Linked DNA regions of Homo sapiens. The protein of the gene in region 1 interacts with the protein of each later gene in a pairwise test. Each region holds a gene or a part of one and is shown on either strand. Other genes may lie near its edges.

Region 1 (4,723 bases):
GTGACATCCCAGTTGGTCTTGGATGGTGCATAAGAGGTCACTGAAAGCCAAGGTGGGAAAGGTCAGCCACCCAGAGTGAATAGTGTGTGCGCAGGCATGCAGCTCACCATACCCAAGGAAAAGGCAACCTGGCTGAACTCCGAGAAGAGTTGAGAGCCGAGGAGTCTCAGGACTGGGGCTGCGGACAGGGGCCAAGGCACATGGGTCAGTAGATGTTGATTGAATGAATGAGTGAATGAAGCTGGAAGTGATGGGTAGTTTTTAAGCAGAGACCTGTCTTTAACAGGTTTGCATTTTAGAAGGATTCCCTTGTCCCTTCAGTGGCAGTGGCCGGGGTGGGAGTTGGGTGAGGTAAGAGGCAGAGAGTCTGAGTAAGGGTTGGGGCTGACAGAAGGGACTGTGAGCTAAGTCCTGGTTCATAGTAGAAGCTCATTTTTCCCAGCCTTGTATTTCTCCCTCCCGACATCCAACCTGCTGCTGCACTCCAGGCAGGAGGGGAAAGGCAGAGGGACAAGGCCAGGGAGGGCTTCAGAGGACCAGCCAAGGAGGCCAGACTTTCTCCTAGTGACAGTGGAGAGCCACAGCAGTTTCTAGAGCCAAGGAGGGATCTGACAAAATCAGGGCTTGTGAGAGCCCATCCTAGAGTCCCTTGTCCTTAATGAGGGGTTCCCCATCCCTGCCCAAGTGGTCTAGAATGGAGTCAGGCCAACCCTAGACTGGAAGGTAGGACACTAGTGTCTTGAAATCTAGGGCAGAGTCTGGCTGGGAAATGGTGGAGAGCAAAGGTTCTACTGCCCTTGCCTGGGGTGAGGCCGGCTCCACCTTTCACTGGCTGTACAGCTCCGCACAAGCCCTCAACCTCTCTGAGCCTGGAACCCCTGGGGCATGAGAATCAGACAACATAATGCCCCTATGCCATTCAGCTCAGGCCTGGCACAAATACATACTCTGTAAATTAGCTGTGACCTTGGGCAAGGTACTGACCCCTCTGAACCTCATTTTCCTCCTTTCTAGAATAGAGACAGGGATTTATGCCCTCAGGGCTGCCATGTACCTTAGAGTTGACTGTGTGCATCTTATAAGCTACAGCTGGAGCGGGGGTGGGTGGGCAGAAGGGGCAGGGCTGCCAAGCCAGGAAGCTGGTGGGCACAGAGCACAGGGCGCCGGTCCCAGTCAGTGGGACCTGCCATGCCCCTGGGCCTGGAGGTTGCCCCTGGCAGGCCACAGAGGCCCACTGTGACCTGGCCCCAGCCTGCCTCCACTGGGACTGCCCATCCATCTTTCGGGTCTGGGGTCGCTGGCTGCCATTGGGCTTTGCTGCCGCTTCCTCCACCTGCACTGCCCTCCCCTCCCAGTGCCCATCTTGTGAAAGGCCAGAATGTGGGTATGTGATGGGGAGGCCATGGGACCTGTGGGACCAGGGAAGATGCTAGTAGAGGGCAGAACTCAGTCCTTGTTCCAAGACCACGGAGAGGTCTTGGGCCCTCACCCGGAATATGCACCAGCCACACCCTCACCTGTGCCGCCTCTGCCCGCAGGTAACCCCCCGCGGCCTAGCCTGGAGCCCGAGGAGCCCAAGAGGCCTGTCCCCGCAGAGCGCGGTAGCAGCTCTGGGACGCCCAAGCTGATCCAGCGGGCGCTGCTGCGCGGCACCGCCCTGCTCGCCTCGCTGGGCCTTGGCCGCGACCTGCAGCCGCCGGGAGGCCCAGGACGCGAGCGCGGGGAGTCCCCGACAACACCCCCCACGCCAACGCCCGCGCCCTGCCCGACCGAGCCGCCCCCTTCCCCGCTCATCTGCTTCTCGCTCAAGACGCCCGACTCCCCGCCCACTCCTGCACCCCTGTTGCTGGACCTGGGTATCCCTGTGGGCCAGCGGTCAGCCAAGAGCCCCCGACGTGAGGAGGAGCCCCGCGGTGAGTGGCCTGAAGCCGGCCTGCTTCACATATGGGAGACGGGGGTTCCCAGGGAGGGAGGAGTGGCTGGTGGGGACATGCAAGGAGGCAAGGCCGAGACCACAGTCATCAGCTGGACCCTGAACCAGGCATTCGGGGTACTGAAGACGCATGTAGGGAGCAGAGTTCTAAGTTCAGCTATCAGGTGGTCCAGGCAGGTGGGGGCGATGCCTGCTGTGAAATAAAAGAAGTAATCGGGCCAGGCAGTGGTGCACGCCTGTGATCCCAGCACTCTGGGAGGATCACGTGAGCCTTGAAAGGTTGAGGCTGCAGTGAGCGGTGATCATGACACTGGACTCCAGCCTGGGCGACACAGCATACATGTAATCATAATCGTAGCAAACTCCTGGCTCCTTACTTGTGCCAAGTACTGTTTGCAAGGCTTTCCCGAGATGGTCTCATTTAGTCATAACAACCAGAGAACTAAGCGCTCCTGGATGCCCATTTTTAGATGAGGAAATTTAAGGCACAGAGATTAAGGGACCCACAGCTCCCACAGCTAGTAAGTGGCAGGGCCGGGATCCACATCCAGGCCAGCCTGCTGCAGAGGCCTCACTCCTAACTATTACAAAAAACAGAGGCACCACGGAGCAGGAAGGGCGGTGGAAGTTGAGTCAAGTAGGTCACTGTGCACATGGGGAAACTGAGGCCCAGAGCAGGACAGTGTCTTGGGGACCTCAGCAGTTGGGGGTTGCTTGACCCTGTGCCCCTCCTATATCCTCACAGGAGGCACTGTCTCACCCCCACCGGGGACATCACGCTCTGCTCCTGGCACCCCAGGCACCCCACGTTCACCACCCCTGGGCCTCATCAGCCGACCTCGGCCCTCGCCCCTTCGCAGCCGCATTGATCCCTGGAGCTTTGTGTCAGCTGGGCCACGGCCTTCTCCCCTGCCATCACCACAGCCTGCACCCCGCCGAGCACCCTGGACCTTGTTCCCGGACTCAGACCCCTTCTGGGACTCCCCACCTGCCAACCCCTTCCAGGGGGGCCCCCAGGACTGCAGGGCACAGACCAAAGACATGGGTGCCCAGGCCCCGTGGGTGCCGGAAGCGGGGCCTTGAGTGGGCCAGGCCACTCCCCCGAGCTCCAGCTGCCTTAGGAGGAGTCACAGCATACACTGGAACAGGAGCTGGGTCAGCCTCTGCAGCTGCCTCAGTTTCCCCAGGGACCCCACCCCCCTTTGGGGGTCAGGAACACTACACTGCACAGGAAGCCTTCACACTGGAAGGGGGACCTGCGCCCCCACATCTGAAACCTGTAGGTCCCCCCAGCTCACCTGCCCTACTGGGGCCCAACACTGTACCCAGCTGGTTGGGAGGACCAGAGCCTGTCTCAGGGAATTGCCTGCTGGGGTGATGCAGGGAGGAGGGGAGGTGCAGGGAAGAGGGGCCGGCCTCAGCTGTCACCAGCACTTTTGACCAAGTCCTGCTACTGCGGCCCCTGCCCTAGGGCTTAGAGCATGGACCTCCTGCCCTGGGGGTCATCTGGGGCCAGGGCTCTCTGGATGCCTTCCTGCTGCCCCAGCCAGGGTTGGAGTCTTAGCCTCGGGATCCAGTGAAGCCAGAAGCCAAATAAACTCAAAAGCTGTCTCCCCACATGTAGCCTGTCACCTTTCTTGGAGGTAACCAGGTGACCCAACCTATCATACAACCCTGGTGTCCTGATGCCCCAACAATAGGCAGTTGGATGCCTTGTACTGCATGCCTCTCCTGGGACCAAATCCACCAGCCTTGGTCAGTCATTCAAGGCTCTTCTCGGCCAGGTGCAGTGGCTCACTCCTGTCATCACAGCAGTTTGGGAGGCCGAGGCCGGCGGATCACATGAGGTCAGGAGTTCAACCTGGCCACATGGTGAAACCCCATCTCTACTAAAAATACAAAAATTAGCCAGGTGTGGTGGTGCATGCCTGTAGTCCCAGCTACTCTGGAGGCTGAGGCAGGAGAATTGCTTGAACCTGGAAGGTGGAGGTTGCAGTGAGCCAAAATCACGCCACTGCACTCCAGCCTGGGCAACAGAGCAAGACTCCGTCTCAAAAAAAAAAAAAACAAAAAACCATAGGCCGGGCATGGTGGCTCACGCCTGTAATCCCAGCACTTTGGGAGGCCGAGACGGACAGATCACAAGGTCAGGATTTTGAGACCAGCCTGGCCAATATGGTGAAACCCCGTCTCTACTGAAAAAAATATATATATATACAAAAATTAACCAGGCGTGGTGGCAGGTGCCTGTAGCCCCAGCTACTTGGGAGGCTGAGGCAGGAGAATAGCTTGAACCCGGGCGGCGAAGGTTGAGTGAGCCGAGATTGCACCACTGCACTCCAGCCTGGGCGACAGAGCGAGACTCCATCTCAAAAAAAAGAGTAGTAAGTTCCACCCACCTCCCAGTATGGTGACTTGCCATGGCATCTGGCACCCCTGACAGTTCTCTTCACACTGCCATGGGGGCTCTGGCACTCCCACACCATACCCTAGGGCAGGGTCCCTCCCTCGGCCTCTGTCCATTCTCTTCACACTGCCATGGGGGCTCTGGCACTCCCACACCATACCCTAGGGCTGGGTCCCTTCCTTGGCCTCTGTCCTCAGCCCCTCTGACGTTAGAGGAGTTGGAACCCAGGCTCCCCCTTCCCCTCTCCCAGGTGCCCCATGGCAGCCCAGACTCTGTGTCTGCAGTTCAGGGGCAGGGAGTCAGGAGGGCAGGCACAAAGCGTTCTCAGGAAGAACTGGCAATCGGGCGCAAGGGTATCATCTGCCCGGGTGCTCTGGGCACCC
Region 2 (4,258 bases), on another chromosome or scaffold:
CACAGGACCTCCGCACAGCCCAGACCGGCGTCCTCCTCCTCCTCCCTTCCCTTCACCTTGTTAACCACTCAGCCATCATATTTCAGCTCCAGTCAATCTCAGGATGCCTGCCCTACACCCTGGGCTGAGTGAGGTTCCTTTTTTAGATGTTCCATAGGCTGGGTGCAGTGATTCGTGCTAGTAATCCCAGCACTTTTGGAGGCCGAGGTGAGAGGATCGTTTGAGTCCAGAAATTGGAGACCAGCCTGGGCAACAAAATGAGATCCCATCTCTACAAAAAATTAGCCACTCGGGAGGCTGAGTTAGGAGGATCGCTTGAGACCTCCTGAGGTTGAGGCAGCAGTGAGCTATGATTGCACTCCAGCCTCAGTGACAGGGCAAGACCCTGTCTCAAAAAAAGATATGTTGCATGGAACTGATTATTCAGCTTGTAATTACATTTTCGTTTTCGGGATTTTGTTTGTGGGATTTTGTTTCCTGTGTCTGTCTCTCCAGCTAGATCATGCAGGAGGGCTGTCTCCCTAACATCTGTCACGGTGCCTGACATGTAGCCGACACTCAGTGTTTCAGTGCAAGGAAGAGCCCAGCGCCCAGAGGTGTGACGGAGGTGCTCTTTTGGCTGGGGAACTTGCACTGAGCCAGGAGGGATAGGCCAGGCAGCCTTCCATCCAAAAGACTTGTTTTTGTTTGTTTGTTTGTTTTAGATGGAATTTTGCTCTTGTTGCCCAGGCTGGAGTGCAATGATGCAATCTCAGCTCACTGCAACCTCTGCCTCCCGGGTTCAAGTGATTCTCCCGCCTTAGCCTCCTGAGTAGCTGGGATTACAGGTGCCCACCACCAGAGACGCGGGTTTCACCATGTTAGCCAGGCTGGTCTCGAACTCCTGATGTCAGGTGATCCACCCGCCTTGGCCTCCCAAAGTGCTGGGATTACAGACGTGAGCCACCGCGCCCGGCCCAAAAGACTTGCTCCCAAAGTGTTTGTTTTACAATCTCGGGTCTTAGAAATAACACGGGTGGCATGAGAGGAAGCTGTCCAGGGGCTGTGGGTGGTGGGCAGCCTTTCCCTGAGCCAGTACGGGGACGTGGATAAGGGGCAACAGGTCCTTGCCGCTTTTCCTAGGTCCCTGGCCCGTGCCTGAGGCCTGGGATCTCTGTAGCCCCGAGGTGGAGTCAAGCCTGGGGCCCCGGGCCCCAGTCTTAGCCGCAGCCTCGGGCAAGCTGCGTAACATCTCTGAACTGGGACTGTGCGGATTCGAGAAGGCAGCGGACGCGAAAGGAGCCCAGCCAGGGCTGGCGCTTCCCGCAAGCGGCCGCGCGTGGCTGCGGGGATCACTCGGGCGAAGCTCGCGGGCCAGGCGGGGCGTTCCCGGGGCCGCTCTTGTGACGCCACGGGCGTTGCCCAGCAACCGCGAACGCCGCGGCGGTGAGCTTGCGGGCAGGCGGCTGGGGCGGCTCCGGGCTCGGGTTCTGCGGCGGCGCCTGCAGCGCGGATCCCCCACGTCCCCGCTCGGGCCGGGCCTCAGAAACGGGCGAGCCCGGGCGCGGGAGGAAGCGGCGGCCCCGGCTCGGGTCCTGCGACGCCCAGCTCCCCTCCGGGGCGCCCCCCGAGGGGTCCCCGCCCCCCGCCGCGGCCCCGCCCCTGCCTCAAGGCCCCGCCCCCCGTGGCCGGCGCTGGCCCCGCCCCTTGGCCCGGGCTGCTGGGAGTCCCCGGCGGGGCGGGGGTCAGCTCTGGTCCCGTTGGTCCTGGGCGCGGCGCCATGGCCTCCGAGGCGGTGAAGGTTGTCGTGCGCTGCCGTCCCATGAACCAGCGGGAGCGAGAGCTGCGCTGCCAGCCCGTGGTGACTGTGGACTGCGCGCGCGCCCAGTGCTGCATCCAGAACCCGGGCGCCGCCGACGAGCCGCCCAAGCAGTTCACCTTCGACGGCGCCTACCACGTGGACCACGTCACCGAGCAGATCTACAACGAGATCGCCTATCCGCTGGTGGAGGTGAGGGCGCCCGGCAGGCCGCCCTGCAGGCGGCAGGGCATGAGGCCGCCCCGAGAGTCCCCAGGGGGCTGCGCTGCCCCCCAGCCAGGAGGAAAGGCCCTCGAGGGGCGCAGGCGGACGGGAACAGGTAGGTCCGGAGGCTTTTGTCCAGGCGGGACACAACCAGAGCCTGCCTCTAATGTCGCCTCCGGGTCTGCACTATCCCCAGCGTCTCCGCCTCCCGGGTTCAAGCGATTCTCCTGCCTCAGCCTCCCAAGTAGCTGGGATTACAGGTGCCTGCCACCACGCCCGTCTAATTTTTGTGTTTTTAGTACAGATGGGGTTTCACCATGTTGGCCAGGCTGGTCTCGAACTCCTGACCTCAAGTGATCCGCCCGCCAAGTGCTGGGATCACAGGCATGAGGCACCGCGTCCGGCCGAATGGTGACTTTTTATCTTCCCTCACTGGCAAGATGGGGCACACCTAGCCCTGTTTTGGTTACAGCATGGGTCTTTGCAGTGGAACCGGGCATAGATGCCATGTGGGCCCTTGGGGTCTCAGAACAATTCTCTGGGCCAATCTACCCATACAGGATCCACCCCAAGCCCACACTAAGGTCTAGAATTTGCAAGCTCATGAGCTCTGCAAGGGCAGGAACTGTGTCTGCCTCGTTCACCACTTTGTCCGTAGGCTGAGCATAGTCCCTGTCGAATGAATAGAAACAGCGATGAATGAAGAATGACTTTGGGAATGACTTTGGGAACAGCACCGGGTTTGCCTCCTCTCTTCCTTCCAGGCCTCATCTTCCACCCCTCCCCTAGTCCCTCCTGCTCTCCACACCTCATCTGTGTGGCTTTACTCAAGCTGACCCCTCAGCCTGGAATGCCTTCCTCTTCCTGTCACCTGGCAAAGTACGAGCCCCACTCCCAGCTCCCCCAGTTCTCCCTGTCTTTGCCGCCTGGAAAGCTGTGCTTCGTTCTTCCTGTGCCATCCTGTTTTCGCTTCTTTGTACTCCCTGTCCCTGCCGGCTGGCTGCCTGGACTCTTGTCGCTGTGTGCCCCGCCCCATAGCCCGCCACGAGAATCACCTGTACGTGTCCAGCTCCCTGCATTGCAGGCAGACATTGGGCCATCACCTGTGTATGGCAGTGCTTCCTGTGCCCATGCACGAAAGAAGCCCTGTATGCACCCTGTGAGAGCCCCGCAGGTGCTGCTCTTACCCTTTAAGATATTGATTTTTTTTTTTTTTTTTTTTGAGACGGAGTCTCGCGCTGTCGCCCAGGCTGGGGTGCAGTGGCACGACCTCGGCTCACTGCAATCTCCTGGGTTCAATAAATTCTCCTGCCTCAGCCTCCCGAGTAGCTGGGACTGCAGGAGCTCACCACCACACCCGGCTAATTTTTCGTATTTTTAGTAGAGACAGGGTTTCACCGTGTTGCCAAGGCTGGTTTTGAACTCCTGACCTCAGGTAATCTGCCCACCTCAGCCTTCCAAAGTGCTGGGATTACAGGCATGAGCCACCCCGCCTGGCCCAAGGTGTTTTTCTTATCATCTTATCAATTTGCCTCAGTAAGGCCAGCCCAAGGGCACACGGTCAGTAAAGTGGAGATGGATGTGAGCCCAGGGGGCCAAGCCCACAGCTCAGGCTCTTCCCCATCCACACACAGGGACAGCTCCTACCCCACCAGAGAGTCAACTCCTTGAGGACAGAGCTGCGCCTTGTTTATCTCCACAGTCCAGTGCCATTGTTGGTGGGGGGACCAGGAAGGGCCCTGAGTCTGTGGGTTAGGGAGCCCTGTCCCGAGCCCTGCTGTGCCTGCTCCACTGAGCACGGGGTCCTGCCTTCCTCCCATGCAGGGCGTCACTGAGGGCTACAATGGCACCATCTTTGCCTACGGCCAGACAGGCAGCGGGAAGTCCTTCACCATGCAGGGCCTGCCGGATCCGCCCTCCCAGAGAGGCATCATCCCCAGGGCCTTCGAGCACGTGTTCGAGAGCGTCCAGGTACGGGCCTCGCAGAGGGAAGGGGCAGGGCCAGAGCTGCAGCTGGGCCCAGAGCACTTCTGACAGGTGGCAGAGACACGGGAAGTCTTTGGAGCCCGGCCTGACCCGTGCAGATCAGCAGAGAAGGCTCTGGGTTCTGAAAAGGTGGTGGGAAAAAAACTTAGAACAGAGAAAATTCTGTCCATGCTTTTCTCTCACCATTTTTGCCTTCTAACCCTTAGTTGAGCATTTCCCATGGATCTGCTGACCCTGTGCACTGGGCCAGGAAGTGGTTGTAACAATCAC
Region 3 (3,500 bases), on another chromosome or scaffold:
TGCGAGTATACATGTTTTTTAACAAGTTGAAAATGTTTCATCTGAACCTTTCCTAACTTTTTTTTGCCAGTTTGAGTTCAAATCAAATACACCTTAAGTTCTGGTTTCATGTTCTCTTGAAACATTGAATTGTACGTAAATATAAAGGATCTACTGTTGCGGAAAATTAAGAAGCTAAATACTGCTCAGTTATCTTTGCCTGCGTGTATATTTTTAAAAATTCACTCTGAAGTGTTATGGATGCTTTTCTTTGAGTTCTAAATTTTGGTGGGAATTACTTTATGTCTCCCAGTTAAGAAGAGTCTCCATTTTCCAGAAAATACAGCTAAGCAAGAAAAATATCTTTTAAATACTTTGCCTTTAAAACACTTTTTTATTTTGTTTTTCTATTTTAAAAATAAAATATTATTTTCTGAATTTCTTCTATTGGGTAATCCAGTTAGACCATATTCCTCTACAAATAAAAACTATGTTGATTTCATAGTAAAGTAAGTTGTAATAGAGATAATTATTTTTTTCTGTTGTTAGCTGCTTATGAAACTTTTATTGTATTTTTTTAAAGTTATGCTACTCCTGGCCGGGCATGGTGGCTCACGCCTGTAATCCCAGCACTTTGGGAGGCCGAGGCACGTGGATCACTTGATGTCAGGAGTTCGAGACCAGCCTGGCTAACATGGTGAAACCCTGTCTCCAGTACAAATACAATAATTAGCTGGGTGTGGTGGCGCACACCTGTAATCCCAGCTACTTGGGAGGCTGAGGCAGGAGAATCACTTGAACCTGGGAGGCGGAGGTTGCAGTGAGCTGAGATGGCATCACTGCACTCCAGCCTGGGTGACAGGGTGACACTCCACCTCAAAAAATAAAAATAAAATAAAAATAAAGTTATGCTACTCCTAAACCACTTAATATATGTTTTGTGGTTTTCAAAATTATGTAATCAGCCCTGAAACACATTGGTTGAAAATATTTTGAGACTTTATAAGTTAGTATTTATTAAATTAATATTATTTTAATAAGTTTTGTTAAATCCTAGTTTAAATGACAAAGCTGTGTATAGAGTAGGGGTGAGTGAAGGTGGAGTACTCTTGAGGTGGCGATAAAAATGTACCCATAAATTTAAAGTCCATTCTGTAATTGGAATACTGAATGTCCTGTGTGTGGTGAACATTTTCTAGGTGATTAGAATTGCATTTCACTGGCTGCATTTGTTTGTGGTATGTAAGATAGCTAGAAATTTATTACTTAACTCTGTGGGGCATTGTTTAGATACTGTGAAGAGTTGAGGTAAATATGTGTCTTGTAAAAGCTTTGTGTGATCAGAATATTTTGGTAATTATAAAATGTTTTTGATGATACACATTTAACTCTGTTAGTAATTACTCTAAAGAAATCTTAATTTTACCAGTTTAAAAAAAACGCTTCTTTTTAAAAGTTCATGTTTCTAACCTTTAACAATTCAGTTAATAGGAAAGGAGTAACTTTTAAATCAAGCTTTAAAACATGGAAATTTAAGCCAGTATGTTAGATATTTTTTCTATCCCACCCTACCATGATAATAAAAATAAATCTATAAAAAGTCAAAATAAAAAGCCGATCTATAAAAAGTCAATTGAGAAGTTCTAAAAGCAGGCTACTATAGCAGGGGTGTTTGTTTTTTGTTTGGAGACGGAGTCTGGCTCTATTACCTAGGCTGGAGTGCAGTGGGACAATCTCGGCTCACTGTAACCTCTGTCTCTTCAGCCTCCTGAGTTGCTGGAACTACAGCTGTATGCCATCATGCTCGGCTAATTTTTGTATTTTTTTGTAGAGATGGGGTTTTGCCATGTTGCCCGGGCCTGTCTTGAACTCCTAGAGCTTAAGTGATCCACCCGCCTCAGGCTCCCGAAGTGCTGGGATTACAGGCATGATTATAGGCCTGAGCCACCACACCCCGCCTACTATAGCAGTTTTTTAAAAAAAGCATTATGTTAAAACTGATTATACCAGATGGACATTAAATATCCATCTCAGAAATACCAAAATTTGATACATAAGCCTGGCCTGAATATCTTTTTTTTTTTTTTGAGACGGAGTCTTACTCTGTCGCCCAGGCTGGAGTGCAGTGGCGCGATCTCGGCTCACTGCAACCTCTGCCTCCTGGGTTCAAGGGATTCTCCTGCCTCAGCCTCTTGAGTAGCTGGGATTACAGGTTTGCGCCACCACACCCAGCTAATTTTTGTATTTTTTTTTTAGTAGAGACCGGGTTTCACCATGTTGGCCAGGCTGGTCTCACCTGACTTTGTGATCCGCCCGCCTCAGCCTCCCAAAGTGCTGGGATTACAGGTGTGAGCCACCACGCCTGGCCTCAAGCCTGGTCTGAATATCTATATGCAAATATGGGACACTGACTTCAGAGCTATTCATTTAGCTCCAGTCATAGCAATTCTGTAGTTTCCTCACATTTACTGTGTCTTTGTCCACAAATGAAATATGTTGTAAGGTCAGTGTTAATTTCGTGAGACGATATAGATGAACACACTTGCTCATTTTTTGAAATAAATATGCAGATTTAAAATGAGTGGCACATATATATAAATAGGTTATTGAATGGGTATTCTCTTTTCCCTTTAATTTAAAAAGTGATATTTATTTATTAAAAGGAGCATTGGTAGAATTATTGGTTTATAGTATCTTCTTTAATAATCCTTACAATTACATATACTAATAGGATGTTAAAATTATCATCGTGTTTCCTATTTGTGTTTAGATTCTTATAAAGCATGAGATGAGTAATCAAGGGAAGGGTCGCATCTCCATGTTTGCCCCATGAATAGAATCCATTTGACAAGCCATTTCATTTCCTTTCTGGAGAAAGGGAGTTGTTTTTTTTTTCTTTTTACAGCAAAAATTTAAGGTTTTATTGGGGGAGGGGGTGGTGCTACTTCCTCTGTAACATGTTTTTAAAACTATGATTATGGTTTTTGGTTGTTTTTTGTTTTGTTTGTTTCCTTTTAGTCTGTTTTTAATATCCTTCCCCTTAACTCTTAAGGAAAGTCTTCTTTCCTACAGGGCTGTGAATTAAGGAATGGGTAGCGTTTACATTTAAGTACACCAATGTCTGCCCAATTTCCTAATGTATACATTTGTTTTATTTTAAATTATTTTTTGTTCTTAAAAATACTAGAAGAAAACATAGATGTTTCTAGTGCCTTTGAACTTATACTGTAGTCTGACTAATTTAATGAATAACTTCAGTAGCATTACTATAATACTGTATGCTGGCCAAAATTACAAATTACAGTTTGTTGCATCAGTTTCAAAAGCCATGCTTTCATTGTATTTTATGTATAAATTGTATTTGTTCAAGTTGTATATATTGGTATTGTATGTATACATGCAGCATGGTTAAATAAGAATAAAAATCTTTTACCTAATGCCTGTAGTAGTGGTCTGCTGCTTTTCTCAACTATCTTTGTGGTTACTTCCACCCTGATATTAATGAGCAGGTTCTTTGTGCT
Region 4 (3,867 bases), on another chromosome or scaffold:
AGAATGTCTCCAGGTTTTAGCATCCTAGAAAGCCTGATTTCCCCCACTATATTAGAAAGAAGCAAATGAGAGTTTAAAGAAACAAACTGTTATGTTTCACAGTGAATTTAATTAAAAATGTATGTAGATATAGTTGATTTTTCATAATACAAAAGGACCTAGGACCTATGTCAAAGTACTCTCCAAACTGATCATAAATGTTTTAAATATTTTTTGCTTTAAACAGCAAGTTCATCTGTGATACATAATGGAGAATTCCAGAAAAGATCATTTTAGAGTTTGGTTTCAAATTTTATTCCTTTTTTCCAAAACGATATTTGTATATAGAAATTCGAAAAATTAAATGATATCCTCTACACTGTAATACACACAGATGTCTCTGGGTGAACTGCTGACTACATAAATAGATCTTTACCATAGTAACCTAAAGACCATACTGTTCAAGACCAGAGATTTACAGGTTCAGAAACTCAGACTCATCAGTGCTCAAGGGCCAGTCTTTCACTGACTTGGGACTGCAGGTTTTTATCAACAATGTGCATGACATATTTTAAAAAGAAAAATCCATTTGTTAATGTACAATGAAAGTTATAACCATCAGGTGGATTAGGTAATATCTAAGTTTATTATTTAACCTGTTGGCAAATTACATGGGAAATTACAGTGATCAATAGTTTGCCTATTAGTCGTAGAAATAAAAAAAAGGGGGAGAATTTTGCAACTTGAATGTAGAATGGCCTCAGACTCTGAGAATGTTAAATTCCCTTCCTGATTGAGGACCAAACTGCAAAAAGGCCAGATATTCCTTATGGTGTTATAGCTTACCAGATCACCACGCAATTGCCTAGGTTGCTACAACCAGCGTTGTAGCTGAGACGCTCCTTGTTCTGTGCCAATGACTGGTGAACTCCCTTCTGAGGACCATCTTCTTTTAGGTAGAATTACAGTGATATTGCTAACAAGTCGTCTGTGAGATACTCTGAAGGTGCCTTTGCATGTTTCCTCACTGTCCCACATATGCCTCTTGTTTTCATATTACTGAAATAGATCTTGCCATAGCCCCTAGATTGAGAAACAAGCATAAGATTAACTTGAGTTTAACCTAAGTCTACTGCTATTTGGCCTCAGAGGAGTTGCTAAAAAAGATAAGGACTGGTTGAAGACAGGTAATAAGCAAAAGATGAAGAAGGAACAAGTTGAAATCCAAGCTATGTAATCAACAGTTATATAATTGAGAGTTCTTTAGATACATGATTACTTGTTAGCCTTAGTGCTTGCAGAGAACAGTTTTCAATAACTTCTCTAATTTTAAGCTGATACCAGTGTCTCTTAGTTCACTGATTCCACTAATTTCTGAAGCATCTTTTAAGCTACCTCTTGATTTCCTCATCACAAAATTTAGTCTCTCTTCCCATGAGATCAAAGTTAGAAAAAGTGCCTATATTTTTACCATTTCAAAATAAAATGTAGACTTAAAAATTTCAACCAACTTTGAGAAACTATAGACAGAGTTTTTATATAGAAGGACCCCAAAACAACAAATTTTGTCCAGAATCGCTCAGTACAAATGCTAACCTGAAACTTGTATTTCAGAACTTCCATTCTCCTAAAGGGCAGAGTCACTGGACCAGTATGTGTTATATGTATTTTGGCTCTTTACATTTACTCTTTAGTTCCATCTTAATACACACAAGCACGCGTGCACACAAACACACACACGCATTCACACATTTATTTAAAACCTTAACATTTTAATAGTTACTTCTAAAGTGTGTCAACTTAATCTCACTCTGAGTGTGACAGGGAGTTAGTGCCTATGTGAATATATTTTTTCATCACATTCAGTTTTTGCTATTGAGGGAAAATTATCTTTCCATCTCATGTAGTGCAAACTTAAATCTTAAATCATTTAAATATGTTTTATTTTTCCAAAGCTTACATTTCTGCATTACAAATGGTGTCCATTGATTGGAAGTCAAGCTCACTAGCATTCACTGCATGAGCTATGCATGAGCATGTTAAGGCCACCATGTTCTGCCTGGCAAAATAAATACTTTATCATTTTCCTAAGTGTTGGATAATTCCCTGACCTTTAAAAAGGACTTTGGAGAACAGATTTTCCTCTAAATAATGTATTAATAGACCAACAAGTAATTTTTTTAAAATAATAATCATGAAGTTTAACATACTTCAAGCTATCTTTACAACTCTGAAGGTTATCTTTGGGTTTCTGTTATTCCCATAGAATAAGTTGAACCAAAATTTGTAATTGTCTTGCTGTCACTCAAAAGAAATAGATATGTTTTGTAATTGTTTGCATTGAGGAATCAGAGGAAGGATTTGCAGATCAAATCTGACTAATTTTCAAATTTTGTCAAATTCCTTATCTTGTTCTTTTAATCATAGGCTTATGGTATGATTTGGCCCTGCATGAGAGTTCACTGATATAACTCAAACACATGTTTTTACTAAAAGTGGAATTAGTCCTGTATCTTCATATGAAAAGACATTATAAACAGCAAAACTCACTTTACTACAGTTTTATTTTTATCATTCCCTAGCAATATATTACTGATCATTGCTAGCATGTAAAATCTTTTCATATTTTTGCTTAAGAGCCATATATAAGTAATTTATTAAATAAAACTTTTCTGATTTGATTCTTCCACTTTGTTTCAAATAGTACCTACTGACAGAGGTTTCCCATACTTTTAACACACATTGTTAGAAGTATTTTATTATATACACTTTTAATGGCTCTATTAACCTTAAAAAAAAAAGTTAATGATATCCACCTAAATCACTATCCCTGCTAGGAAGAGAATCTTGGTGGTATAAAAATGTAGGCCTCTTAATCTGCATTGTGGATGTGTGATGAAAAACATAGCTTATCATTCTTTTTTTTCTTTTTTAGCCTTGGAATGGATGGCTTTGGCCAACCAGTTGGCATTCTTGGACGCCCTGCCACAGCATATGGATTCCGCCCTGATGAACCTTACTACTATGGCTATGGATCTTGATAAAGTATCTGTTTCCATGTGTAATCTCAGCTTAGAAGAAATCTGTGTGGGTTGGGTTAATTTTGGATCTTTGCCTAATAATGCATGTTGATGTTATTGTGGGTCTGTGTTTGTTTTTATTTTTATATGTTGTTAGCTGCAGATTAACCCCAGCCCCTCTGTCTTCTGTTAAGTACAGTTGATACTGACATTGTTCACTCATCAAACCACATCTTGATGCTAAGTAACATTTCCCATGAGCCACAAAACTGAATGCTGAAAAGCTACTAGACTGGAAAACAAACACTGCATTATGTATGTTAAGTGACTAATTTAATTTCAATTAAAAAGCGTAAAGTGAAAATGAATAAGTGAAAGTCATGTGTTTATATTTCACACATTTCACTACGAATTACATGTTAATATAGGGTGCGCGTGAATTTTATTTTTTCTCCTTTTTTTCTGCTTGTAAACTCTTGAGTAATTTGTATAATATATGCTACCTTTAAAATTTATAAAAAGAACATCACCTTCATATTCCATGCCATGTGCCTGAAAGTTTCCTTCCCAAAGTTTATTAACTATGAGTTTTCAATTAATAATGGAACATATGTCATAAGTTATTTATGGTTATAGTCTCTTTGGTGGTTTTAATTCATATCTTCCTAGTTGTAATATAGAAATCCTAGGACAAGTAGTATACAAGACAAGCAGTGATACAAGATTAGCATTTGGCTTTTAACTTTTATTCTTCATAAATTTAGTATCTAAAGCATGGGAAAGCTAATTAAAAGTCGCATTAAGGAAAACTAAGGAACAGAATATTTCACTCACTTGGGTACCCAGTTCCCAATTGTTCACTTGTTCT

What was found. The genes of interacting proteins can lie anywhere in the genome.
Region 2: the proteins of MAP3K11 (region 1) and KIF17 interact in a two-hybrid assay, tested with the Homo sapiens proteins (one study listed by BioGRID).
Region 3: the proteins of MAP3K11 (region 1) and KIF3A interact in a two-hybrid assay, tested with the Homo sapiens proteins (one study listed by BioGRID).
Region 4: the proteins of MAP3K11 (region 1) and KIFAP3 interact in a two-hybrid assay, tested with the Homo sapiens proteins (one study listed by BioGRID).

What each region holds. Positions count from the first base shown.
Region 1 is NC_000011.10:65,596,584-65,601,306, reverse strand, and holds the end of MAP3K11 (mitogen-activated protein kinase kinase kinase 11), read left to right. Parts: intron 1-1,538; coding exon 1,539-1,913; intron 1,914-2,678; coding exon 2,679-3,016; 3' UTR 3,017-3,550; downstream 3,551-4,723. UniProt on the Homo sapiens protein: Activates the JUN N-terminal pathway. Required for serum-stimulated cell proliferation and for mitogen and cytokine activation of MAPK14 (p38), MAPK3 (ERK) and MAPK8 (JNK1) through phosphorylation and activation of MAP2K4/MKK4 and MAP2K7/MKK7.
Region 2 is NC_000001.11:20,715,208-20,719,465, reverse strand, and holds the start of KIF17 (kinesin-like protein KIF17), read left to right. Parts: upstream 1-1,458; 5' UTR 1,459-1,759; coding exon 1,760-1,990; exon of another isoform or gene 1,991-2,117; intron 2,118-3,826; coding exon 3,827-3,973; intron 3,974-4,258. UniProt on the Homo sapiens protein: Dendrite-specific motor protein which, in association with the Apba1-containing complex (LIN-10-LIN-2-LIN-7 complex), transports vesicles containing N-methyl-D-aspartate (NMDA) receptor subunit NR2B along microtubules.
Region 3 is NC_000005.10:132,692,547-132,696,046, reverse strand, and holds the end of KIF3A (kinesin-like protein KIF3A), read left to right. Parts: 3' UTR 1-3,416; downstream 3,417-3,500. UniProt on the Homo sapiens protein: Microtubule-based anterograde translocator for membranous organelles. Plus end-directed microtubule sliding activity in vitro. Plays a role in primary cilia formation. Plays a role in centriole cohesion and subdistal appendage organization and function.
Region 4 is NC_000001.11:169,920,829-169,924,695, reverse strand, and holds the end of KIFAP3 (kinesin-associated protein 3), read left to right. Parts: intron 1-1,593; coding exon of another isoform or gene 1,594-1,630; intron 1,631-2,914; coding exon 2,915-3,020; 3' UTR 3,021-3,367; downstream 3,368-3,867. UniProt on the Homo sapiens protein: Involved in tethering the chromosomes to the spindle pole and in chromosome movement. Binds to the tail domain of the KIF3A/KIF3B heterodimer to form a heterotrimeric KIF3 complex and may regulate the membrane binding of this complex.